7 linked regions of the Homo sapiens genome follow. The protein of the gene in region 4 purifies or fractionates together with the protein of the main gene of each other region. This does not show direct contact. Each region holds a gene or a part of one and is shown on either strand. Other genes may lie near its edges.

Region 1 (4,288 bases), on a different chromosome or scaffold from region 4:
AGAGCTGGGCTAAGCTTCAGAGGGAAGTGGCCCCTGGGAGGGGGAATGGCTGGGGTTAAGACCCTGGGTTCCCACGCCCCCAAAACAGAAGTAGAATTAGGGAGAAAGGACCCCCAAGACCAAGGACGGCACCTATCAGAGGAGCTCTCCACGGGCAGGAGGTGTCCCAGGGTGAGGGTGGCCAGGACAGGTCTAGGGAAATGCAGGTGGAGCAGGACCCAGAGATGGATTGGAGATGCCGGAGGGGAGGCTTCCTAGCGGGAGCGGAGACAGGCACTGCAGACAAGTGTCAGCGGGAGGGGCTCTGGGTGGGGAAGAAGACTGGGACTTGGAGGAAGACCTCTCCAGGGAGAAGGGAGGAGGGGGAAGGAGAAGGGGAGGAAGTGGGAGGAGGAGAGTGCTCATCCTGGAAGCCACAGCCTCGGAGAGAACTTTCTAGAAGGAAGGCATGACCATCAGTGTCCCAGGATGCTGAGAGGCCAGGAAAGGTGAGGCCTCAAGGCGCCATGGGGTTGTGGTGACCCCAAGATCACTGGGCACAGAGCAGGGATGGCTGGGGGTGGAAGGGGAGGGGCGCGGGCTGAGGTTCTAGGGCCCCAAAGCCAGGTGTGATGTGGCTCTAGGGGGAGTGAGGAAGGGGAGAATGTCCCTCTGAGCGTGCCTCTTGGGGAAGGCAGGGGTTCTGGCTGGGGCTTCTCCACTCCCAGGAAAGGAGGTGGTGTGGAAGGAGCGGGTGGGACGGAGGAGAGAGCGCCCCGCGGCCGCAGGACCAGCAGGTGGGGGACCAGGGTCAGCGCTGCTGGAGGGGCCTTAGCGCGACAGGACTGGCCAGAGACCGGGGATGTGGCACAGAAAGAGTTAAAGGGCACCCCAGGGACCGCCCTGCCGGTCCACCCATGTCACCCATGTTGGCCCCTACTCCAGCCCCCGTCTGCTCTGCAGGGGAAGGAACCGGGAGCCGCGGTGGGGGCGACTGGGGGTGTCGGTCTTTCCAGAAAATCAGGCAGGCATCAGGAAAGAAGGGGCGAGAACCCGGGGACGCGAGAGGAAGGGGGCGAGGGGGCGCCCAGGGAGGCGGAGGGAGCGAGAGGAAGGGGGGCTGAGCCACGGCCCCCACGCCCGCGCGCCCCTCCGCGTCCCAGGGCGTCCCCTCCCGGAGCTGGGACCCACCGCGACCACCACCTGCTGGGCCAGGGTCCGCGGGCTCAGGGGTCTGCAGGATTAGGGTCTGCGGAACCAGGACCCGTGGGACAAAGGTCTGTGGGGCGCGGGTCCGCGGGGTGGAATTCAGCGCGCCGAGTCTGCGTATGGCCGGGGTACGAGGCGCTCCCTGCGCAGGGTGGGCAGGACCGAAGCTCGCCGGGAGGCTGCGCGGAGGGCGGGCGGGGACCCTCGGCTGCCGCTCCCACCCCCGCGGGGCCGCCCCCGAGCCCGCCCTCCGCCGCCGCCCTCGCCCTGCGTCGCCGCCGGAAAGTTTGCACCGACCCCGATCTGGCAGCGCCGCGAAGACGAGCGGTCACCGGCGCCCGACCCGAGCGCGCCCAGAGGACGGCGGGGAGCCAAGCCGACCCCCGAGCAGCGCCGCGCGGTGAGCACCTGGGCCGCGGCCCCGAGGGGACGTTGGGGAGTCGACCCGGTGGGGACAGAGACCGCGGGGCGGGCGCGGCGGGGCCGGGGGCGCGGGGAGCGGGGAGCCGGCCGGGCGGTCTCCGGGGTCCGGGCTGGTGCGCTCCTCAGTCCCGTCAGACACCCCCGTTCCCAACCCCGGCTCGGACACCACCCGGTCCTGCACCGTCGGGCAGGTCCAGGGGTCTCAGCCCCTCCCCCGTTCTCTGGTCCTGGGGGGCGCGGCTGGGGGCGGGGGTGTCGCTGGCCGCCTGGCGCCCTGCGGCGGCCACACTGCAGCGGCCACACTCCCCACTCAGGGCCCCGGGCCCCGCCGCCCTGGGGAGCGCACAAAGCGCCGCGGACGCGTCCCCGAGGCGCGGGGTCTCACCAGCGCTGTCTCCCCTCGGTGGGCTCCTGCCCCGAGGACTGCCCGGTGGCACCGGCGCGGCCCAGGATGGGGTGAGGGGTGTCTGCGCCCCGCCTGGCCGCTCCTCTTCCGCGGCCCACACTGGCGACTTTGACCCCGGCAAGCGGGTCACTGCCCTGCCCGGCTCCGGCCCCCCCGGCGCCCCACCACCCGGCCGACTCGGCCACCGGGCTTATGCTCCGACTCTGAACCGACTGACCCCGGCCCCCTCGGCGCCCGCATCCTCCAAGGACCGGCCAGGGCTGCTCTCTGCCCTTGGTATTGGGGACATCAGGGTTGGGGGGTCTGGGTGCACCCACGCCTGCCCCGCCCCCACGGGGTGAGGGCGCAGGGATAGGGCTTTGTCAACAGCCTGTGGCCCCTGATCCCGCCCCGGTGCCCTGACCTTCCACTACCTTCTCTGGTTTCACAAAAACATCCCGGCTCCCATCCCGGAGCTCCTCAAAGCGTCTGAGAGGCCCCTTGCGGACGCCCTGGGAGCCCCGCTGCCTTCCTGGACCAGTGGCCGCTCCACCCATCCTGGGGGCCCAGCTCCAGGTCTGCGGGTCCCTCAGCCGCCCCCAGTGGGAATCGGTGGAGCCTGACGCAGCCAGGAGCGCCCAAGAGTCACGTGTTCTGCCAGGGAGGACATGGGACAGGACACGGGGTGCCAGCCCTGCAAAGCGGCCGGGGCAGTGGAGCTCAGGTGGCCCTAAGCCCTGGTGGTGGCTGGTGTGGCCCGGCAGGCAGCTGTGGGAGGGAGGAAGGGGGTGGCATGCGGTGGGGGTCTAGAGAAGGCGGGCAGGGCACCTCGGGAGCCCCCCCATTGGGCACCTCGGGAACCCCCCACATTGGGCACCTCGGGAACCCTCCCATTGGGCACCTCGGGAACCCCCCACATTGGGCACCTCGGGAACCCCCGCATTGGGCACCTCGGGAACCCTCCCATTGGGCACCTCGGGAACCCCCCTATTGGGCACCTCGGGAACCCCCACATTGGGCACCTCGGGAACCCCCCCTATTGGGCACCTTGGGAACCCCTCCCCTAATTCTCAGCTGACTCCAAGGCCTGAGAAGGAGCTTGGTCACCTGGACTGTGAAGGTGGAGGGTGGGGTCCCTGGTGGGTCGTCCCACCTACCAGCTGTGTCGCCGGAAGGGTAATACGGAGCACTGTGGCCCCGGGGAGCCCCGAGTGGCAGCTCCACAGCTGGGAGTTTCTGTCCACTCCTTCAGTCAACAAACATTGATCCTGGGCTGACCGGGGCCCGGGGGTGTCAGTGTCTCCTCTCGGGGGAGAGGGCTGGGTGAGATCAACAGAGGAGCCTCCCTTCTTCCCTTCAGGCTGGTGTCACCTTCAGTGATGGGGCAGGGTCCCCACTTGGGAAGTTAAATCGTCGTCCCCGTCCCAGGACCACAGCAGCCTCAGCCCTGCTCTCCAGGCCAGGCTCTCTCATGGGTGCTCAGCTGGAAATTGGTCCCCCCCCGGCTCCACCCACCCCTGTTGGGGTGAGGAGCTGGAGTCTCCCTACCCATATGGGACCCACCACCCGCAGGGAACGGAGGACGCTCACACTTCTGCACCTCCTGCCTCACTATCAGAGACCCAGTGGAGAATTGCCTCCCACCTCACCTCTTGTATTCAGAGGCCCTGACCCCTAGGGATCCGGGACTAGGGGTGCCCTATGGGGAGCCCACCTGTGGCCTGTGGATGCTGAGCTGTCGGGGGAATCCTCCAGGATCCCCAGCCCCACCTTCCCAACCTTCTGTTGAGGCTGAGGGGACACAGAGCCCCACTCCTGGGTCCTGACTGTTTCAAAGAAAGGCCTGGGGGACTGGGCAGCCAACCCCTCCCTCGGCTCGCTGGGGTCTCCAGACTGGCTGCCCGGCTGGAAGGTGGGGCCCTGGCACGCGAGGACCTCATGTGTGGAGGCACTGGCTTGGGGGGTGCTCCCAGTGGCTCTAGAGTCAACATGACAGGCATCGAATGGCTCCTGTTTCTCTGGCAGAGTTGGGGCAGAGCCAGGCTTGGCCACGCTGGGCTCTAAGGGGCTGTCATTTTGCCCAGGGAGCTCCTGGCTGGGTGGTCCTCCCCCCAGGGTGAGCACGCGTCCCCCCCCACCCCCACTTCGAGGCGCCCAGGCAGGGAACAGCTCATTGGCCAGTGTCCTTCCTCCTTGTCCCCCGCCTGCATCTCCACCATCCACCCTGCTCCAGCTGCCCCTTGTCCCTCTCCCCGTCCCCTGCCCAGAGCCCCAGGTCTCCCCTGCACCCCT
Region 2 (3,500 bases), on a different chromosome or scaffold from region 4:
GTGTAACAGATTCTTTACTACGGTGATTTTTGAAGGGACATTAATGTTATCTATATGTTTGTAGTATGGGGTGTATCTATCATATTAATAGTTTTATTATCTTAATATAAACGTAGATGTTTTTCAGAAGTAACTGTTTTAGAATCTTAGTTTAATAAGATAATTTTATACATTAATTTGTTATATGTAGTGGTTTATCTTGTTCATTTGGTCTTTTAACAAACATTTTAAGAGCAGGATAGCCAACCTTCATATGAAATACTTGTTGAAATATATTTTAATTTCAACCTTTTAAATTCTTCAGGGTTTTTTTTTTTTTTTTTTTTTTAGAACTGAGCAAAATTGTAAGCTCCTGGCTCTTGTTTTGCCCCAGGACTATAATACTACTTTCAGTGTTTTCCTTTTTCTTCAAAATATTTAATAATCAGTGTTCACTGACATTTTATTACATTCTATAAGATTACTCAATATTTATTAAGTACTTGATATTTATTTGCATAATATTAACATTTTAAAAATTAACTTTTGTTTTTGAAACAATTGTAGTCTTCCAGAAAAATTACAAAACTAGTAAGAGTTGCCTTTTGCCCTTTACCCACCTTCTTCAGCTGTTAATATCTTAGCAAGTACAATGATCAAAACCAGAAAATTAACACTAATACGGTAATACTGTATTAACTAATCTATACACCTTATTCAAATTTTATTTATTCAAATTATATGCAGTGGTTATTATTAGTGTCCTACTAGTATTCTTTTTCTCATCCAAGATCACACGTTGCATTTAGTGGTCTCTTCCAATCTGGGTGAGTTCCTCAGTCTTTAGTCAGTGTCAAAGTAATGAAAAACAATCTTGTTATCTCTCAAATTGGGTGTTTCTGCTGCTTTTTCATGATTAAATTCAGATTATGTATTTTCGGCAAGAATATCATAGAAATGATGTTTTGCCCTTGTTAGTGCATCGTACCAGGAGGTACATGGTGTTCGTATGTCTCATTAATTATAGCGTTAACTCGGCTAGGTCACCAGGAATTTTACCAACTGTTGCTTTTGTACCAGCAATGTGATGCCAGTATGAAAAAGATAACTTGTATCTTACATATTATTGTGAAAATACTTTTGACTTCATGAAGTCCCTCAAAGGGTCTTGAGGATTTCCCTAGAGGTTGAAGAATAACACTTTAAAAGTCACTGCCCTGGAGAGAATCTCTATTTGAGCACATAGAAGCTTGTATAAGAATGTTCACAGCAGTTACTATGGTTTTGAGATAAATAAAATTTAAAAAAGAATGTTCACAGCAGTGTTGCATGTAAAAACAGAAAATTGGAAAAAACTTAAATGTACCTTAGCAGGAGACTGGATAAGTTGTATGAATTTGTATAGTGCAGTACTGTATAGAAGAGAATGTTAAGCAAATAAAGTAAGTTGCAAAAGAAAACCTACGGTCTGTTAAAGTGCGGAACAAAACTATTTTAGGGTAGGGTTTTGCAGCCTTGGCACTATTGACATTTTGAATTGGATAGGATAATTTTTTGTTATAGGAATGTCCTGTGCATTGTAGGCAGGCATCCCTGGCCTCTACCCATTAGCAGCAGTAGCACCCCACCTCCTTGTGGCAACCCACAATATCTCCAGACATTGCCAGATGTCCCCTAGTGGGGGCAAAATTGCTCCCAATTGAGACTCATTGGTTTAGGGATATGTACATGCGTGGTAAAAGTATGCCACGTAAAGGTAAGATAAACACTAAATTTAAGAGAGTGGGACATCCTTATGGTGAAGGGAGTGGAGAGCACGATTGGTGGAAGTACACCAGGGGCATTTAAGTATTTTGGTAATGTTCTGTGATTAAACCTACCCCATGGTGAGTGCATAGGTGTTAAACACACACACACACACACACACACACACACACACAAAATTTTATTTTTTTTGAGACAGTCTCCCTCTGTGGTCCAGGCTGGAATGCAGTGGTGTGACCTCGGCTCACTGCAACCTCCGTCCCCCAGGTTCAAGCAATTCTCCTGTCTCATCCTCCTGAGTAGCTGGAATTACAGGCATGCACCACCACACCTGACTAACTTTTGTATTTTTGGTAGAGACGGGGTTTCACCATGTTGGCCAGGCTGGTCTCGAACACCTGACCTCAAGTGATCCATAGCCTCAGCCTCCCAAAGTGCTGGGATTACAAGTGTGAGCCACCACACCCAGCCCTTTCTATATTTTTGTGTGTGTCATATTTTTGTACTTAATTTAAAAAAAAGCCTTATATTTATCAGAGGGAGAACTGAGGTTGCCTTTGATTATTCATCATTTGTTCCCTAGTTCCACCTATATTATATGAATAGAAAATTTATTGCAGTATGATTGGGAATTAAGAAATGGGTAACCTTCAGCATAAGATTCCTTGCAACTTTTCTGGGAGTTAAGGATTCTGGAGTGGTTGGATCATTGTGAATCTTTCTGATACGATTTTTCTCACTACATTTTGAAGATTTTGTCTGGGAGTTGTATGCGGGTCTCTAATATTTTGGCATATCAGCTTTATTTTTTCTTTCAGGACACACATGATATGTTTGAATTTATGGTCTAGGATAGTTAAACTTTGCAGAGAGGAGCATTTAGTATCTGTTTGAGTGATATAACGTCTGTCTTGTTTCGAGATTCATTTGGCTCATTTGTAGTGAGCAAGAAGATTTTGGGACTATATGGGATGTTATTTAATTAGTTTGGACTAATTTTGTAAAGTCTGTAGTCAAGTAGGTATAGTTGACTTTTTATCATCTAGGCACTGATTTTATAGGAGTTGGAGAAAAATGTGTTTTTATTTATGCTTGCTTTGTGTTCACTTGACTACAGTGTTGTATTGTTACCAGAGATAATGGAGAAAATGAATGTAGATTTCCTGTTAAGGTTCTGTCATTCTTCGTGTCGATAATACAGAGTTAGAGGTATAGAAAATCAGCTTTATTCAAAACCAGCTTCTGGTCATAGTTCATTCAAACTGTTTTGGGGGTAGTTCTTTGTCCTTGTCTTTGACCGCTAGCAAAGAATGCCTCTCCAGTCATACGTGGAAAAACTTCTCAGATGTTTTGTATTCAGTTGAAGGTTTAAAAGGGCTGACCCTGGATTAAAAAAATGAAATGAATTAATAATCCTCAGCTTTTCTTTATCAGAATAGAGTCCCCTATTCTGATCTGTTTCTAGAACCACAGTAGAAAGGGGTATTTGTCAGGACACAAAGCCGTAGGAAAAAACAGGATTTGAGGGAACAATGTTTGGGGAGCAGGATGCCACACCTGGAAAGGATGAAATATCACAAAATGTTTTTTATTAATGACATCTGCAAGGAAAACTTTATTTCCTCATAGATCCTACCTATTTTAAAGGCTTCTGTAAAATGTCTTTCTTATTTTATTTCCTCCACTAAAACAATGTTGTAAATTATGAAAGTCTATCTAGTTCTTAATAGTCCCTGTAGATTGCAGCTTGGTTGAGC
Region 3 (3,500 bases), on a different chromosome or scaffold from region 4:
CAGATAGGGAAACTGAGGATCAGAGAAGCACAAGTGTCTGCTAAGGAATATGAAAGAAGTTGGGCAAAAAGCCAGCTACAACCCTTTCCCCCAGCCCCAGAAAGAGAGTTAATTTTTATCTTCGATTGCATCTAACATCCTTCCTTAAGGAACACCTAAGAGCATTTTGTTGTGGCCCCTGCCCTGTACAGCCAGGGCAGCCGTGGTTCTGAAGCTGAGCTCCCTCCCACCCCAAATTGTCTCTGGTCCTTAATTCCAGCCCCTGCAATATGGTGCAAGGTTTACCCGCAGCTGACTCATGCTCTGGCCAGCATCTCTGCTGCCCCTCACAGAAGCAGCGGCAGCAGCTCTGAGTCGTTTGAGGATCTGGGGGATTCCAGCAAAGCCACCATTTGGGATCAGGGTTAGGCTTTTAGCTTGGAGCCCATCTTTTTGGTATCTAAATGCCGTACACCCTTGCTGAAATTTTCCGGACAAATGCCTCCCTTCTCATGGGCCCTTGGTATGTCCCCTCCCCACCAAGTTGACAAAGGCAGCCAGCTTGGGGATGGCCAGAGAGTCTGGGGTCCCAGAGAAGACATAGCCCTCCCTCTCCCTTTTTGCCCATCTTTGAGGCTGTCGTGGCCACAGCTGCTGTCCCAGCAGAGACCCCCAAGCAGCCTTTTCCTCAGAGCAGCTTAATTCACCCCTGTCTTGGGGTTGGAGGCTCAGGAGGGCTGATCCAGGATTGGCATAGCAGGGAGAGCTGCAGGGACAAGCTGGGGGTGGTCGCCAGCTTTTTAGCTTAAATTTAAGATTCTGAGTGACAGGAGAGTCGGGTGCAGAGAATAAGGAGCCTGACGCGGAGGCGCCACGTGCTAATGCCTTGCCGGTGCCGTCCCGTAAAGATAAATCCTCTTTATGTGTCCTTGCACCAAGCCGGGCTTCCATGGAACACCACGGGGTAGTCCATCAACACAACGTTCAGGCTCTTCCTCCTTGATTGATTGCAGTCTCCCCTCCACGAGGGTGTGGGTCTCTCTGAGAGGGGGAAAAAATACGCACATGTGTGGCCTCAGCACGGGGGATTTCCCCTCCCCCCACCCCCTCCAGCCTGCCTTAGCTTGCTGTGTCTCTCACTGGCCCTGGCTTTCTGTTTGGCAGGTACAGCAGCTCAAATTATAGAAAATCAAAGCTGAAGAGTCCCTCAGAGATTGGCCAGGGAAAGACCCTCTTTTTATAAGTAGGGAAACTGAGGCCCAGAATGGGTAGGAGCTGAACTCTGCTGCCACATGGCAGCAGGCCGGATACAGGGCAGGACAGGGGTCCCTTCCTGGCCCCACTGGGGAGCTGGGGTCTCCATCATCAGAGAGCCCCTGACTCAGGCCCTTGTGTTCAGCTCATCCCTGGCTTGCTGAACCTGAATAATGAAGTGTGCGTGATGGAAGGTGTTAAAAGATGGTGGGAATATACCAGTGCTCATGGAAACCTGTGCTGATAGGAGAGCGCTCAATAGTTCTAATTTCCCTGGCTTTAAAAGATGAAGCCTTTTTACCAGGGACCCCTTGAGTTCAGAGCCTGAGTGCAGAAAGAGAGACCACAGGGACACGTGGTAGTGCTGGGGTTAACAGGTTTCTTGATTCCTGACGGAGGGGGGTCGTTACATCTCCATCCCCCCCACTGCCCCTCTTTGATGGAAAAGTATGAAGAGCTGGTGGTTTTTCTGAGGGTTGGGCTGTATTCATCCCCCGGCTGGCCAGGACCCCTCCCCTAACAGGAGAGGGTGGAGATGCAGTCTTGTCTGGTGGAGACAGGCCTTAGGGAATCTCAGCTAGGCACGCTGTTGCAGGGAGGGGCATGATGTCCACAGTGAACGTCACGGACATGTCGCTGGATATGGGGTGACCTGGTGCCAGGCAAAGGGAACAGCTATCCTGGCCTGAATATCAGTGGCCACGACTTTCTGATCTGTGACCTTAGGCAAGGAAACCCCTTCAGCTTCCTGAGCCTCAGCTTACTCACTTCATGGGTTTTTTTGAGGGGGCTCCCTAAACCCTCTTACTCCAGACCCCACTCGGTGGCCATAGAGCCATTTTAAAGCCCACTGGGGCCCGCATCACGCTCGTGTATGGAGAGGAAGCTAAGTTCTCGTCTTCCCCGTCACCCCGCAGATGTTCGGGCCTGCTCCTCGGCCCCCTGTGCCAACAACAGGACCTGCGTGAGCCTGGACGATGGCCTCTATGAATGCTCCTGTGCCCCCGGGTACTCGGGAAAGGACTGCCAGAAAAAGGACGGGCCCTGTGTGATCAACGGGTAAATATCCTTCCTGTGTGTGATCTAATGAATGCTGCTTTTCATGCGGCCACCAAAGACCCTTTCAGCCTAACCCTGCTGGACCTGTCGTCTGACAAAAGATGAAGTAAGCGCTCATCCTGGCAGCCCCGTAGGGGACCGCCCTGGATGGGAGTATTCACGGGGGAATGTGTCATTGCCATAATTTTTTCAAATGATCCTGAAGGCGATTTCATATTCCCCTGATGTTCTCAAGTCCCGATGCGTGTGAGTGACAGTCGATCGGAATGATGAACTGACACTCGGAGCTGCGTAATTTTCTAAAGGCAACGTAGTAAAAGATTGGAGCTCCGCGGGGCTGAGGCTGTTTGTGAAACCCACTTGCTGTATCTCAGGGGGTGGTTTTGGGGAACTGGTGGGCTCTGCAATTGGATTTTCTGGGATGTCTGTGGAGGGAGTTGCCAGGCTGAGAGGTGAAGAGATTGGGCTTCTGCCAGCACGAGAGGAGGTGGGCCAGCTGTCGGCTATCCTCAGTGGGGAAGGGGGCTTTGGGACTCCTGGGCAGCGGACATAACAGACAGAGTGGCCACTGTCTTCACTTGGACCTCCCTGAACAATGCTTCCCAGCAGCTCAGCCTCTGCCCACCCATTATCTCTTTGGCGGCCCTGAGCCATCCCTCCCCGCTGGATGGGGCTTAGCCTGAAGCCAAGGGAGATCTTGACAGAGGCAGGGTCCGAATGTAAGAATCCAAACTTGAACCCAGTCCTGGGCCTGTAGTTGGGGGGCAGGGGTGTCCCTTTCCTCTGAAGAAACAGAAGCTAACATGCAAATAAGCTTATCTTGACCGGACATCGCAGGGTGGCACAGAGACCCCAGTAGTCTGTAAGAGCTGTAAACAGACATTAACGGGGCTTCCAAAGATCAGTCTTCAGACGGGGTCAGAGTGGGGGCTGGTGAAGACTGAACTCCATTTCTGCTTATTAGCAGGAAGGAGAAAAACAGAGCGAGACCTTTAAAATATTTTGCTTTTCTCGCGAATGGACTTAAACCAGTGTGTCAAAATAGAGCCTAAGGCCCTTGAAATTCCTTCAGAGCCCAGCTCCCATGCAGCCCACACCCTGAAGCAGCAGTGCTGATTTCTTGTGTTTACTGCCCCTTCTTCCCCGGAGTTTTGCCATTTATCGGATGACAAAGGGCTCGCTCGTTTAAAAGCACTTACATTAAATGC
Region 4 (3,500 bases):
TGGACAGGTTAAGTTTGTGATGAATATCAGACATCCAAGTAGATACGACAGATACACAGTTGGCTACATGCAACAGAATTTCAAGGAAAGAAGTCTGAGATAGAAATAAATTTGAAACTTGTACGCCTTTAGATGCTATTTAAAGCCATAAAACTGGATGAGATCACCAAGAGGGTGGGTGCAGACAGAGAAAAGGTCTAAAGACTGAATCCTGAAACACAACATTTAGCCATCAGGGACATAAGGAGGAACTATCAAAGTTGCTGGTGAGGTAGGAGAAAAATCAAGAGAGAATAGTATCTTAAAAGCCAAATGAAGAAAGTACTTGAAGGATGAAAAAAAAGGATTAAATTGGCTCATGCTACAGATAGGTCAAAACAAGAACTTGGAAATAAATCAAACAACAAGCAGGACATACGCACAGAAGTATTAAATATGGCATTGTTTATTAGAGAAGAAAATCGGAAACAACCTAAACATCTCCCAATATGAATTAAGTAAATAACAAATACACTCAATGGAATATCACACAATTATGAAAAAATGATAGTTATTAAGATCACATATACATGACTATATTATTCTATGTAAAAAAAACAGATATAATTAATAGATATTATAAAATCACAACCATATAAAAATACATGCTTTTTTTTTTTTTTTTGCCAGGCGTGGTGGCTCACGCCTGTAATCCCAGCACTTTGGGAGGCTGAGGCGGGCAGATCACGAGGTCAGGAGTTCGAGACCAGCCTGGCCAACACAGTGAAACTCCGTGTCTACTAAAAATACAAAAACTAGCCGGACATGGTGGCGCACACCTGTAGTCCCAGCTACTCGGGCGGCTGAGGCAGGAGAATCGCTTGAACCCAGGAGGTGGAGGTTGTCGTGAGCCGAGATCACGCCACTGTACTCCCACCTGGGCAACAAAGCGAGACTCCGTCTCAAAAAAAAAAAAAAAAAAAAAAGCATCTTTTTTTTAATTAGAAGAAAACATACCAAAACAAAAAGTGTTAGGGTTGTGTGAAGATTAATATTTTTTCTCTTAATTTTTCAAATGAAAACAAAAAAAAAAGCTTGCCCTAAAAGGTTAGCCTGGTGTGTCTACTACAATTACATAGATTTGCTCACAGACTATTCTTATTTACAAAAGCAAAGACTGAACACAGATTAATAATAATAGAAAGTCTTAACTATTTCCTCATCTAAATGAAACAAAAAACTGAAGAATTTGGATTACTGGCCAAATATTTATACATCCCTTCACACTTATCATTAACACATTTTGTTCTAAATTTTCCTATTTTGCACTAAACTTACTGGGGCAGAATGAAAGTACATGATCATGTACATTTTTGACACCAATTATAAGGGCAAACTACTGTCTTGAAGGAGAAAGGGGAAGTGAGATCTGGTTTTAAGAAACTGAAATTTCTTGGCCAGGTGCGGTGGCTCACGTCTGTAATCCCAGCACTCTGGGAGGCTGAGGCAGGCAGATTACCTGAGGTCGGGAGTTCGAGACCAGCCTGACCAGCATGGAGAAACCCCGTCTCTACTACAAATACAAAATTAGCTGGGTGTGGTAGTGCATGCCTGTAATCCCAGCTACTCAGGAGGCTGAGGCACAAGAATCACTTGTACCCGGGAGGTGAAGGTTGCAGTGAGCAGAGATCTTGCCATTGAACTCCAGCCTGGGCAACAAGAGCAAAACTCCGTCGAAAGAAAGAAAGAAAGAAAGAAAAGAAAGAAAAGAAAGAAAAAGAAAGAAAGAAAGAAAGAAAGAAAGAAAGAAAGAAAGAGAAAGAAAGAAAGAAAGAAACTGAAATTTCTCAACCTCCATTTGCATCTAACCTTCCAGAAAGAGATGTGGATCAAATACCTAACTGTCCCAAATACCTAACTCCATCTAAAATTCTTAGGCCAATGCCTCTGGCACAATACTTTATCATGTCTCATAATTTTTCCACCAAGTCCACCGTCGACACATTTAAGACGTGAATGATTGCACACATTTTGCACTATATCTTGATAATTTGGGTAATGTATTTTAAACGTTACTGATGCACAAGGCAGGGTTAAGGTACAGTGTTGGGCATTGTGATTCTAGGCATGCATATAATCTTTCATATCAGTGTTTTTTTGTTTTGTTTTGTTTTTTGAGATGGAGTTTCACTCTTTTGCCAAGGCTGGAGTAAAGTGGCACAATCTTGGCTCACTGCAACCTCTGCCTACTGGGTTCAAGTGATTCTCCTGCCTCAGCCTCCCAAGTAGCTGGGATTATAGGCGCCCGCCACCACGCCCGGGTAATTTTTGTATTTTTAGTAGAGATGGGGTTTCACCATGTTGGCCAGGCTGGTCTCAAACTCCTAACGTCAGTTGATCCACCAGCCTCGGCCTCCCAAAGTGCTAGGATTACAGGTATGAGCCACCAGGCCCAGCCAATATTAGTGCTTTTGAAAATAGTAATTTTTTTTTTTTTGAGATGGAGTCTCGCCCTGTCACCCAGGCTGGAGTGCAGTGGTACGATCTCGGCTCACTGCAACCTCCGCCTCCCAGGTTCAAGTGATTCTCCTACCTCAGCTTCCTGAGTAGCTAGGATTACAGGCATGCACCACCACGCGTGGCTAATTTTGTTTTTTTCTTTTTTTTTTTTTTTTGACAGAGTTTCGCTCTTGTTGCCCAGGCTGGAGTGCAAAGGCACAACCTCGGCTCACCACAACCTCCGCTTCCCAGGTTCAAGCGATGCCTCAGCCTCCCGAGTAGCTGGGATTACAGGCATGTGCCACCACACCCGGCTAATTTTGTATTTTTAGTAGAGACAGGGTTTCACCACGTTGGCCGGGTTGGTCTCGAACTCCTGACTTCAGGTGATCAGCCCACCTTGGCCTCCCAAAGTGCTGGGATTACAAGCGTGAGCCATGGCAACTGGCCTAATTTTGTATTTTAGTAGAGACGGGGTTTCACCACGTTAGTCAGGCTGGTCTCAAACTCCTGACCTCAGGTTATCAGCCCGCCTTGGCTTCCCAAAGTGCTGGGATTATAGGTGTGAGCCACAGCTCCCAGCCAAATTTTTGTATTTTTTGTACAGCAGGGCTGGTCTCGAAATCCTGACCTCAAGTGATCCGCCTGCCTTGGCCTCCCCAAGTGCCAGGATTACAGAGTAAGCCACTTCGCCCAGGCCACACTGCAAATTTTTAAAAGGAAAAGATTTTGGGTAATTGCTTAATGCACAAATTAAGAAATGTTTGTTCCTAATGTTTACCAGATTAAGCAATAAAAGATATAGATTAAGTAGTAATTACCACAAAAAGTAGAAATAAAGTTATAGAACTTGAGAGTTAGAAAGAATCTTAGATCCAGTAGTTCTCAAAGGTACCTAAAATTTACTGGCTGATGAGGGCATCAAAGGCAGATTCCCAGGCTCGTTGTCCAGAGATTTGGATTCAGTAGGTCTAGTGGGGTACCCATGAATCTGTATTTCAAAATGATCAAGTACAACCCCA
Region 5 (3,500 bases), on a different chromosome or scaffold from region 4:
AAGTACACTTCATTTTCCTTCCCTCTTATCTTTAATTGTGGTAAAATACAGCTAACATTCACCACCTCGGCCACTTAAACACAGTTCAGTAGCATTAAGTATATTGATATTCTTGTGCAATAATGAAGAGTTTGTGCAGATGGTAGCCAATTACATCCCAAGAGGGCTAGGAGAGTGTTTCATTTGTTCTAAGCACTATGACAAGTAAAGTGGACTTCTTTTTTTTTTTTTTTTTTTTCTGAGACAGGGTCTTGCTCTGTCGCCCAGGCTGGAGTGCAGTGGCATGACCTCAGCTCACGGCAACCTCCGCCTCCCAGGCTCAAGTGATCCTCCCACCCCAGCCTCCCAAATAGTTGGGACCACAGGCACCTGCCACCATGCCCAGCTATTTTCCTGTATTCTTTGTAGAGACGGGGTTTCACCATGTTGTCCAGGCTGAGGTCTTGAACTCCTGACCTCAAGTGATCTGCCTGCCTCGGTCTCCCAAAGTGCTGGGATTACAGGCATGAGCCGCTGTGCCCAGCCCTAAGTGGGCTCTTCCTAATTGCCATGTGGATGAGTTGCCTTAAAAGTCAGAAAAAATAGCAAAAGCTACAACAGAAAAATAAAAGGACACGCACGCCTCCATTGCCTGGGACCCTGTCTAACCTCAGACTTAAAAACACAAACAAGATCAAGTGCAAAGATTCAGTCTCTGTACAAAAAAGGAGAGCTTGGAGCAGGCTGGATTCCCTCTGGCTTTGATGTCTCTGACAGTTACGACGTGCAAAATCTGCTTTGGTCAAAAGACAGCAAGATGGGGGATGAGAAGCTTCGACTCATGCTAGAATGGTGTTTTCCATAGCATGCCCCTTGGAACCCTAATTCCCTGAAATATCTGGGCTGGGGTGGAGCTGCGGAGGTTGAGAAGCTCTTCAAACAGTGGCGCAGTCAAGGTCAAATCCATCTGGAAGGTGCTACATATTCCCCTTTCCCTCATTGAGACACAAAACACACAACAGGACACTTGAGTCTCTGGCAGATCCGGAAACCTGAAAGCTGTTTTGCTCCTACGAGCCTTGGGTCCCCAAAACAACATTTAGCCACAGATTTGCCAAATGTTTTGAGAATGTTTTCCTAAAAATTTGCCAAATTTTTGAGAAAATTCAGTGAGCCTGACAAATTAATAATACTAATACTAGTAATAATAGTTGCTAAGTCTTTTTTTTTTTTTTTTTTTTTTGACACAGAGTCTCGCTCTGTTACCCAGGCTGGAGTGCAGTGACGCAATCTCAGCTCACTGCAACCTCCACGTTTCTGGGTTCAAGTGATTCTCGTGCCTCAGCCTCCCAAGTAGCTGGGACTACAGGCATGCGCTACCATGCCTGGCTAATTTTTGTATTTTTAGTAGAGATGAGGTTTCACCATATTGGCCAGGCTGGTCTTGAACTCCAGGCCTCAAGCAATCCTCCCACCTTGGCCCCCCAAAGTGCTGGGATTACAGGCGTGAGCCACCGCAGCTGGCCACAAACTCTGCACTGTGACTCTTGGGCTGCGTCATTCTGTGTCGTGAGGGGAGCTCTTCCGTGCATTGTGGGATGTTCCGCAGCATCCCTGGTCTCTGCCCACCTGATGCCAGTAGCACCCCTTCCTCCACTCATGACAATCAAAAATGTCTCCAGACACTGCTAGATGTCCCCTGGGGTGGCAAAACTGCTTCCAGTTGAGAACCACAGCTTTAGAATAAAAACAAGGGCTGTCTTGGGAAAGGCAGTTAAAGCTGAGAGCAGCTCTCACTTAGTCAAACTCAACTCGGAATACCAACTGCAGAAGATCAGACGGGGGCAAGGTGAACACACTGGACCAGAGACGGACCGCCAGTTGGCCCAACCCCAGGGACACTCTTCATCTACCTTGATGCACCTTCCCAACCCTCCCTCCTCCACCATCGCTCATGTTTAAGGTCCTGCATCAGCTCCAAGGGCTGAAAGGACATCTCTGAAATTACTACCCAGAACTGCTGACCACGAAGTACAGTTCACTCATCAAGAGCTGCTCTCAATGTTTTTGGTTGGGGGAAGGGTCTCACTATATGCCCAGGGTGGAGTGCAGTGGTGCAATCATAGCTTACTGCAGGCTCAAACTCATGGGCTCAAGGGATCCTCCCACCTCAGGTGTGGGCCACTATGCCCGGCTTATTTTTTGTAGAGATGGGGGTCTTGCTATTTTGCCTAGGCTGGTCTCAAACTCCTGATCTCAAATGATCCTCCTGCCTTGGCTTCCCAAAGCTCTAGGATGACAGGCGTGAGTCACCTCGTCCAACTTTCTCGAATGTTTGGATGAAAACAAATGACTCTGTCACCTTTGGCATTAGCGATGTTTGACACATCTGAGTGTGTCAGCCTTGTTTACAGTCCTGTCCTGACCAACAACTGCTTCATTCTTTTTTTTTGAGACAGGGTCTGGCTCTGTTGCCCAGGCTAGAGTGAAGTGGCGCGATCTCTGCTTTCTGCAAACTCTGCCTCCCAGGCTCAAGCCATTCTCCCACCTCAGCCTCCCAAGTAGCTGGGATCACAGGCACGCACCAGAACACCCAGCTAATTTTTTAATTCTTGCATTTTTTTGTAGAGACAGGGGTCTCACTTTGTGGCCCAGGCTGGTCTCAAACTCCTGAGCTCAAGCGATCTGCCTGCCTCAGCCTCCCAAAGTGCTAGGATTACAAGCATGAGCCACCGCGCCCAGGCTGCTTCATTTTTTGAGCACAAACAAGCTAATCATTAGCCTCTGGAAGACCTTAGGATGTCAAGTAACGAGTCTCAGCTTTGCCCCAAACCTGCTGGGTGACTCTGGACAAGTCACTTGCCCTCTCTGGGCCTTGTATTTTTCATTTAGGGAAAATAAATCAATGGTAGGCTGGCCCAGCTCTACCATTTTATGGGACCCGTCTGTGACTCCCAGTCAAAGGGCTGAAACTGGACCAACTGAGAATGTCAGGTTGCTTTAGTTTGTTTTACCATCAGTTTCATTTTTCCCAGAAGAACTCAGGGGCAAAAGATCTTGCCCTCTCTGCTTCAGCATTAATAAAAAGTAAATTAGGCCGGGCATGGTGGCTGATGCCTGTAATCCCAGTACTTCGGGAGGCCGAGGCAGGCGGATAACCTGAGGTCAGTAGTTCAAGACCAGCCTGGCCAACATGGTGAAACCCCGTCTCTACTAAAAATACAAAAAATAGCCAGGTGTGGTGGTGGGCGCCTGTAATACCAGCTACTCAGGAGGCTGAGGAAGGAGAATCGCTTGAACCCAGGAGGTGGAGGGTGCAGTGAGCTGAGATCCCATCACTGCACTCCAGCCTGGGCGACAAGAGCAAAACTCTGTCTTGAAAATAAATAAATAAATAGTAAATTAAATATCCCAGAGCCCAGAGAGTATAGGATTTGCACATCACCTCACCTGGTCAACAGCTTCCCTCAGGATTTTACTGCCAAGCCATTGGCTAAAGATTTTGGACCAGAGACAAAAAC
Region 6 (3,500 bases), on a different chromosome or scaffold from region 4:
GCTACACAAAACAGATGTTTAACACAATGTGGAACTAATAGTACACTCTCAAAACTGTCTTATTTCTGAATGAATTTTATAAGCATACTACTCTCCAGCTTTTTTCATTGCTTATAAAATTCATATAAGCATTCCTTCTGGAGGCTCTAGGGGAGACTCCATATCTTGTCTTTTTCAGCTTCTAGAGGCTGCCTATATTTTAAGCGTGAAATTTATAAGCAATGAAAAAAGCTGGAGAGTAGAGTGAGAAGAAGAAATGCATATCGAGGGAACAAGAAAGGGCGAAACGAGATGGGTATTGGTAAAACTATGCCATATTTGCAAGGAAGTTGGAAAATAGTGATAGGCTTTGTGTGCAAGTAAATAGGTGACAAGACTGGAAAAGAGCTTGCAAGTAAGATAGTACTTTATGGATGAAGACTGCCATAGAGAAGAGACACCCAAATTAGAGTATATCGAAGGCTTGCCTTCTTAGGGAGCTATACTGAAGATAGTTTCCCATTAGACCAGTGCTTGTTTTGAATGCATTGTATTGTCCCTTTGAAATGCTCCTTAATTTGACATCATTGAGGACTTGGTGGTGTTTGTGCAGCCAACAGTGCAGAGGACAAGAATAAGGGCAACAACTCAGTGCATCCTGCTTCTGAATGAAAGCATCAAGAATTACACTGCTCATCATCATCAGATTGGGTAACATTTATGGAGCACTAACTCTGTGCCAGGCACTGCTCCTGTGCTTTATATAGATTGTCTCTTTCATTGATTGAATGATTGATTGATTGATTGAGACAGGTTCTTTCTGTCTTATTGCCCAGGCTGGAGTGCAGTGACACAGCCATAGCTCACTGCAGCTTCAAACTCCTGGGCTCAAGTGATCCTCTTGCCTCAGCCTCCAGAGTAGCCAAGATTATAGGCACATAGCACCACACCTGGATAATTTTTAATTTTTTTCTGTAGAGACAGGGTCTCAGTTGCACAGGCTGGTCTTGAACTTCTGGCCTCAAATGATTCTCCAGCATCTGGGCCTCCAAAGAAAGTGCTGGGAATACATATGTAAGCCACCGCACCCCACCTGATCATCTTTTTTTTAGGACAAAAACAACCCTATGAGGAAGATTCTGGATTATCCCAATTTCACAGCATGAGAAAAAGAACTCTGGGGCGCAGAGAAGTGAAGCAACTTGCCCACAGTCACACTAGGTTGAGCCTGAATTTGAGCTCCAGAGCTTTTCTCCTTAGCCACTAGGCTCTCTTACTGCCCAAAGGGTCATGGGGATTAGGTAGCTGCAGGAAAACTTTATGAATAACATATAGGTCATTCTCTGGGGTGTATCTGTTCACCAATAATTAAATAGGAAGCAGAAGGACTCTGGGACTAGTGGAAGAAATAATGTAGGACGGCGGTTCCCAAACTTTCCTGCGCATTAGAATCACATGGGGAACATAAAAATCCAATTCCTAGATTGTACCACAAACCAATTAAAATCAGAATGTCCGGGTGTTGGAAGCTACATATCAGTAATTTTTGATGATTCTCCATGTAACTTTAACGTGTAGCAAAATTTGATAACCACTCTAATAGGAAGATGACAAGAGGAGTGTGTGTGTTTGTTGTGTGTGTACATTTGTGTGTGATATTAAACAAAAGACCAGGATAAAGTGTTCATCTAAAGAGTTGAATGTCTCTATTGGCTAAAACCTTTAAGCACTAGGGGCCTGCGAAAGCATAGCTGGATTTTTTTTTTTGCCAAATTGTACGTGTAGACAAATTGTACGTGTAGTTTAGTTGATGCCTTCTTGTTTATTCTCCTAAACAAGTGATCATTTCCCTACCTAGCCCATTGGTTCTCAAACATAGCTGTATGTTACAATCACCTAGGGAGCTTTAAAACATACATTTGCTGGGCACCACCTCCAGAGCCTATGATTTAATTGCTCTGGGGTAGACCTGAGGTATAGGTATATTATTTTTACTCCCAAAGTGATTATAATATTCAGCCAGGGTTGAGAAACCTCTGCTATGACCCATTCATTGTTGATTGTTACAGACTACTTGAATTCCTATTCTTTGGGGAAGCACCTTTCTTGTTTCTTTTTGAGCAACCCAAGTCCCTGGCTTGCAGTGGAGCCAGGCAGCTTCAGCTCCCCAATCTCCCTAGCATCTGAACCTATCAGCATCACTTTAATCTCTGGGGTTACCTGTTAAGGACCTGGGGCACACAAAAGTGGCAGCAGCTCTGTTCAGTGGGTAAGTTTGTTTCCCCTTTCCTGCCAGCCAGGGTTCCTGGCCACTTTCAAATGTGACACACATTAGGATCAGCTTTCATCCCAAGTTTTTTGTTTGTTTGTTTTGTTTTTAAATTCTTGCTGAGGGCAGCTGCCTCTGTGGCCAGATAGTTTCTTTGGGTCCCAGCTCCTGCTATCCAATGCTAAGTTGAAGGTGAAACAATGATGAGCGCCTCTTGGAAGAGCAGTCCTGGGCTTGTAGCGTCTCTCTTGGTATGTGATGTCTCTGCAGCCAGCTACAGTTTTTTTTTTTTTTCCTACAGATATTTTATCCTTTTAAGGCAAACAGCGTGAGCTCAGGCTGAGGAGTACTTTCCGAGGAGACTTCAGAGAAAGCAGAACTAGCACATCAACCTTTCAGCCCCCTTTCCAGGAGGCTTGGTTTAAGTGGACAGATCTGGGCATTGCTGGCAGTTGAGAGGTCGGAGACGACACCTGCAATAAAAGATCTTGGTGTGTCCCTCATGAAGACTTCCAGGGGAAATGAGAATTCCTAAACCCTGTGGTCAGACCTCACTGCTGCCCCTATTGCCAGCTCTGTGTGTCTTTCCTGCCCTCTGTCCCCTTAGATCCTTGTTACAAAGTCCTCAAGGTGTTGCTAATGGTCTCTGCTAGGAGCCTATTTACATTTGTAATTTAATCATTACCTTCTCAGGTGAGGATCAGCCAATATAGCACTTTATATAAGCAATGAAAATAGCTAATATAATTGCAAATACTTTTTGATAAAAATAATCTTAGAATCGGAGTCAGCAAGGAGCTTTTCTGTCTTTTCCCCACTCCTAAAATATGAAAATGTATTCAGCTGACAGATAGTATGTTAAAACAGAATAGATGTAATAAGGCTACCCGGAGGATTGGGGACATTAATTATGCAGGGAAGTTAATCATAAGTAAAGTAAACACTTTCATTATGAATCCAGCTTCATGGAGTGCATTTGGTTATTGCGCGTAATTGGGGAGGGATAAGAGGAATTAGAAACAATGAAAAACATGACCAAAAACATGTGTTTAATTATTATGACTTAGCAGTTAGAAGCAGAATGATAGGCAGAAGTTGGTGGTAGGACACTGGGAAAATATCTGTGTCTTTGCATTCTTTTATTCCAACCTATGAAAGGATGGGAGTTCATATAAAAAGAAGAAATTAGTGACAATTTACTACCAAGATATACTACTTTCACCTGCATCAAAAATAAAATAATGTTAATTAC
Region 7 (3,500 bases), on a different chromosome or scaffold from region 4:
GCAGGGCAGGGGAATGGCTGTGACTTGGGACCCCTGGGTTGTGGTCAGTCCTTGGTGCTGGGGTGTGGCAGGCCACAGAGACCCCAGTGCCTCCTGATGGTGCCCCTCTCTTCCGACCCAGCATTTGAAGTGCACCATCACGGGCCTGACCTTCTGGGACCCCAGCTGTGAGGCAGAGGACAGGGGTGACAAGTTTGTCTTGCGCAGTGCTTACTCCAGCTGTGGCATGCAGGTGTCAGCAAGTATGATCAGCAATGAGGTAAGAGCTGGGGCCAAAAAGGTATCAGGACCAGCCTGGTTGGTGCCCCCTCAGGTGCCCTCCCTGATCCCCCAGGGTGGAGGTGTGTTTGGGAGAGCAGGCTGCAGGGGCTCAGAACACAAGACAAGCTTGGCCATTGGTTGGCTTAGTCTCCCCATCTGCAAAAATGGGCGTATTGGGTGGGATACCCTCTGGGGTCCTTTCTGGCTCTGACCAGCTCCCTGGCTTTATCCCCGCAGGCGGTGGTCAATATCCTGTCGAGCTCATCACCACAGCGGGTGAGATGGACAGTCACGTGCTAACCCACCTGGCCCAGGGGCTGCTGCTGGGCCGGGGCCTCTTCCTGGCCTGGGAGGGAGCAGGCCTCGGGAAACTCCTGGCAAGCCATGTGTGTCTGGAATGCCTCGGTCTCCCCTTCTGTATGACCGGAGCAGGACTGCTGAGGGTGACGCTCTTGGTCTCTCAAGTCAGAGGGCTTAGCACATACTGGCTGTGTGGCCTTGGGCAAGTCACTTTAGTTTTCTGGGCCCAAAGGTGGCCTAAGAAAGGACTCTGCGCCACAGGGTGCTTCTGGGCAGCCAATGAGGTGCTGTGTGGAAGCTCTTCACACAGCCTGGCAGCTGGTGCCTCCTTGATAAATATTAGTTTAAAAAAAAAAAAAAGGGCCGGGCGCAGTGGCTCACGCCTGTAATCGCAGCACTTTGGGAGGCCGAGGCGGGCAGATCACGAGGTGAAGAGATTGAGACCATCCTGGCTAACATGGTGAAACCCCGTATCTACTAAAAATACAAAAAATTAGCCGGGCGTGGTGGCGGGCACCTGTAATCCCAGCTACTTGGGAGGCTGAGGTAGGAGAATGGCATGAACCCGGGAGGCGGAGCTTGCAGTGAGCTGAGATCGCACCACTGCACTCCAGCCTGGGCGACAGAGCGAGACTCCGTCTCAAAAAAAAAAAAAAAGAGAGTCAGGCAACTCCACAGGGCCATGATGCCTGTTCCTCCCCACACCCCTCGCCCTCCTGGCTGGCGCCGCCAGATTGACCAAGTCTCCCTCCCGTCCTCCCCCAGAAAAAGGTGCACTGCCTCAACATGGACAGCCTCTCTTTCCAGCTGGGCCTCTACCTCAGCCCACACTTCCTCCAGGCCTCCAACACCATCGAGCCGGGGCAGCAGAGCTTTGTGCAGGTACCTGGCATGCCTGTCACCCCTCGGGCCTCCCAGCTCCTGGAACTTCCTCTCCGCCTTTCTTCCCACCATGACTCCAGAGGAGATGAGACTCCCAGAGTCAGGAGGGAGACAGCCTGGGTGCACGGGAGAGGGAGAGACAGAGAAGGCATTGCTCAGGGACACTGACAAGGATGTGGCCCTGTCCTCCTCCTCTGCCCCAGACAGGTCCATGTCTTTCTTTCCACTGTGAGGACTCAGGGGTGGGAACTCTTAATTCTAGCCGATATTTGAAGGCAGCAGGTGGGGTGGGGTGAAGAGCAGCTGCCCATGCCGCGTGGCCCTACCTACCCATGCAGGTCAGAGTGTCCCCATCCGTCTCCGAGTTCCTGCTCCAGTTAGACAGCTGCCACCTGGACTTGGGGCCTGAGGGAGGCACCGTGGAACTCATCCAGGGCCGGGCGGCCAAGGGCAACTGTGTGAGCCTGCTGTCCCCAAGCCCCGAGGGTGACCCGCGCTTCAGCTTCCTCCTCCACTTCTACACAGTACCCATACCCAAAACCGGCACCCTCAGCTGCACGGTAGCCCTGCGTCCCAAGACCGGGTCTCAAGACCAGGTGAGTGGGGCCTGGGCCGGCCCCAGCTTCAAGTGGGAGCTTCCAGGTCTGTGGTTTGCAGGAAGGGACATGGCAGCCCACAGGGATGTGGGGCCAGCTGGTGAGGGGCGGAGCCTTAATCAGGCATGTGGCCTGGCAGTCTGGCTGCCAGCAGCACTTTCTGCCACCCGAGAGCTTTCTGGTGGGACTGCTGTGTCTGGGGCACTGGCAGACTATGCAGCTGCCACTGTCCATCTATCCATCCATCCATCCTTTCACTTACCCGTCCGTCCATCCATCCATCCACCCTCCCACCCAGGAATCTAACCACCCGCACATCCATGTAGTATGGTCACCAGTGTAATCTCAAAGAACAGGAGACCTGAGGGAAGAGAGGCGGACAAAGGACACACACTCCTGGCTTTCTGTATTTGCCAGTCACAACACTTCACCATCTGGTGACCCCCACTCTCAGGCAATCTATCCTGGACGCCCCCAGAGTCACCCCCAGGCCCTTGCACAGACAGGCCTCCAGGATTACAAACTTCTCTGGTCATAGGAAGCTAGGGAAGCCTTCAACTCCCCTAAGTGGGCCTCTCCCTCCAGCCAGAGTGAGCCTGGGACTCTGGGCTGACCTGGCTCATAGCTCCAAAGTGTTCACAAGGGTGAGGGATGCATAGTGCTTCCACAGTGCTCCTGGGCATCAAGGCCTCCAGGAACTCACAGGAAACATTTCAGCAGCAGCCAGGGATCGTCCACTAGGCACCCTCCCACAGCACAGATCTTCCAGGACTCACCCAGAGGCATCCAGCTACGAAGCGGTGGAGATGGGATTCAAAGCCAAGGCTCTAGGGTGGGCTGGGGTCACGGAGCCAGGGAGTAAACCTGGAAGCCGCCTCCCAAAGGTGCCACATACTGCTCTCTCTTTCTCCTCCAGGAAGTCCATAGGACTGTCTTCATGCGCTTGAACATCATCAGCCCTGACCTGTCTGGTGAGCTCCCTCCAGGTCTCTCGGGTTTGTTCTAGTGGCTGAGGTCACAGTAGGGCACAGCGGGCAGCCCTGAGAAACGGCCTGGGCACATAGCACATGGCAAGGGGGACCCCAGAGAAAGCGGCCCAGAAGGGGCAGGAGGAGGGCTTCCCAGAGCCATAGCAGCCTAGAGCAGGGGCCAGAGCTGCACTTTGCAGATGGAGAGCCCTTGCCCGGGACCGCCCTGTGGGGTGGGAGTCTAGGCCTCTGCCCCCACTCACGGCTCCACTCCATCCCCACAGTTATTGGCTGACCTTGCTGGGAGGATGGAGTCTCCTGGGTGAGACAGAGGCCCTTTGAGGGTGGGTGCTGGCCTTGCCTTCCTTGAGGCCTCTCCCTGCAGGACGCCCCCTCTAGCCTCTCCATCAGTTCCCCCCAGGCCCAGGCCCACACCAGGCAGAAGAGTCCCGACACTGGTGGCAGAGGCAGGGGTGAGGGATGGGGGCACCTA

What was found.
Region 1: the proteins of BMPR2 (region 4) and GCGR purify together in Homo sapiens (affinity purification with mass spectrometry, with the first as the bait; one large-scale study listed by BioGRID). This does not show direct contact.
Region 2: the proteins of BMPR2 (region 4) and MIB1 purify together in Homo sapiens (affinity purification with mass spectrometry; one large-scale study listed by BioGRID and IntAct). This does not show direct contact.
Region 3: the proteins of BMPR2 (region 4) and DLK1 purify together in Homo sapiens (co-immunoprecipitation; one large-scale study listed by IntAct). This does not show direct contact.
Region 5: the proteins of BMPR2 (region 4) and MYH11 purify together in Homo sapiens (affinity purification with mass spectrometry; one large-scale study listed by BioGRID and IntAct). This does not show direct contact.
Region 6: the proteins of BMPR2 (region 4) and PRKG1 purify together in Homo sapiens (co-immunoprecipitation; one study listed by IntAct). This does not show direct contact.
Region 7: the proteins of BMPR2 (region 4) and ENG purify together in Homo sapiens (affinity purification with western blotting, with the first as the bait; one study listed by BioGRID). This does not show direct contact.

Annotation. Positions count from the first base shown.
Region 1 is NC_000017.11:81,802,662-81,806,949, forward strand, and holds the start of GCGR (glucagon receptor precursor), read left to right. Parts: upstream 1-1,488; 5' UTR 1,489-1,588; intron 1,589-1,996; exon of another isoform or gene 1,997-2,084; intron 2,085-2,488; exon of another isoform or gene 2,489-2,572; intron 2,573-4,288.
Region 2 is NC_000018.10:21,743,792-21,747,291, forward strand, and holds part of MIB1 (E3 ubiquitin-protein ligase MIB1), read left to right. Parts: intron 1-3,500. UniProt on the Homo sapiens protein: E3 ubiquitin-protein ligase that mediates ubiquitination of Delta receptors, which act as ligands of Notch proteins.
Region 3 is NC_000014.9:100,729,892-100,733,391, forward strand, and holds part of DLK1 (protein delta homolog 1 isoform 1 preproprotein), read left to right. Parts: intron 1-2,150; coding exon 2,151-2,292; intron 2,293-3,500. UniProt on the Homo sapiens protein: May have a role in neuroendocrine differentiation.
Region 4 is NC_000002.12:202,382,827-202,386,326, reverse strand, and holds part of BMPR2 (bone morphogenetic protein receptor type-2 precursor), read right to left. Parts: intron 1-3,500. UniProt on the Homo sapiens protein: On ligand binding, forms a receptor complex consisting of two type II and two type I transmembrane serine/threonine kinases.
Region 5 is NC_000016.10:15,847,029-15,850,528, forward strand, and holds part of MYH11 (myosin-11), read right to left. Parts: intron 1-3,500. UniProt on the Homo sapiens protein: Muscle contraction.
Region 6 is NC_000010.11:51,080,987-51,084,486, forward strand, and holds part of PRKG1 (cGMP-dependent protein kinase 1), read left to right. Parts: intron 1-3,500. UniProt on the Homo sapiens protein: Serine/threonine protein kinase that acts as a key mediator of the nitric oxide (NO)/cGMP signaling pathway. GMP binding activates PRKG1, which phosphorylates serines and threonines on many cellular proteins.
Region 7 is NC_000009.12:127,816,659-127,820,158, reverse strand, and holds part of ENG (endoglin isoform 1 precursor), read left to right. Parts: intron 1-121; coding exon 122-259; intron 260-498; coding exon 499-537; intron 538-1,326; coding exon 1,327-1,443; intron 1,444-1,447; exon of another isoform or gene 1,448-1,559; intron 1,560-1,769; exon of another isoform or gene 1,770-1,781; coding exon 1,782-2,039; intron 2,040-2,301; exon of another isoform or gene 2,302-2,400; intron 2,401-2,815; exon of another isoform or gene 2,816-2,955; coding exon 2,956-3,010; exon of another isoform or gene 3,011-3,500. UniProt on the Homo sapiens protein: Vascular endothelium glycoprotein that plays an important role in the regulation of angiogenesis. Required for normal structure and integrity of adult vasculature. Regulates the migration of vascular endothelial cells.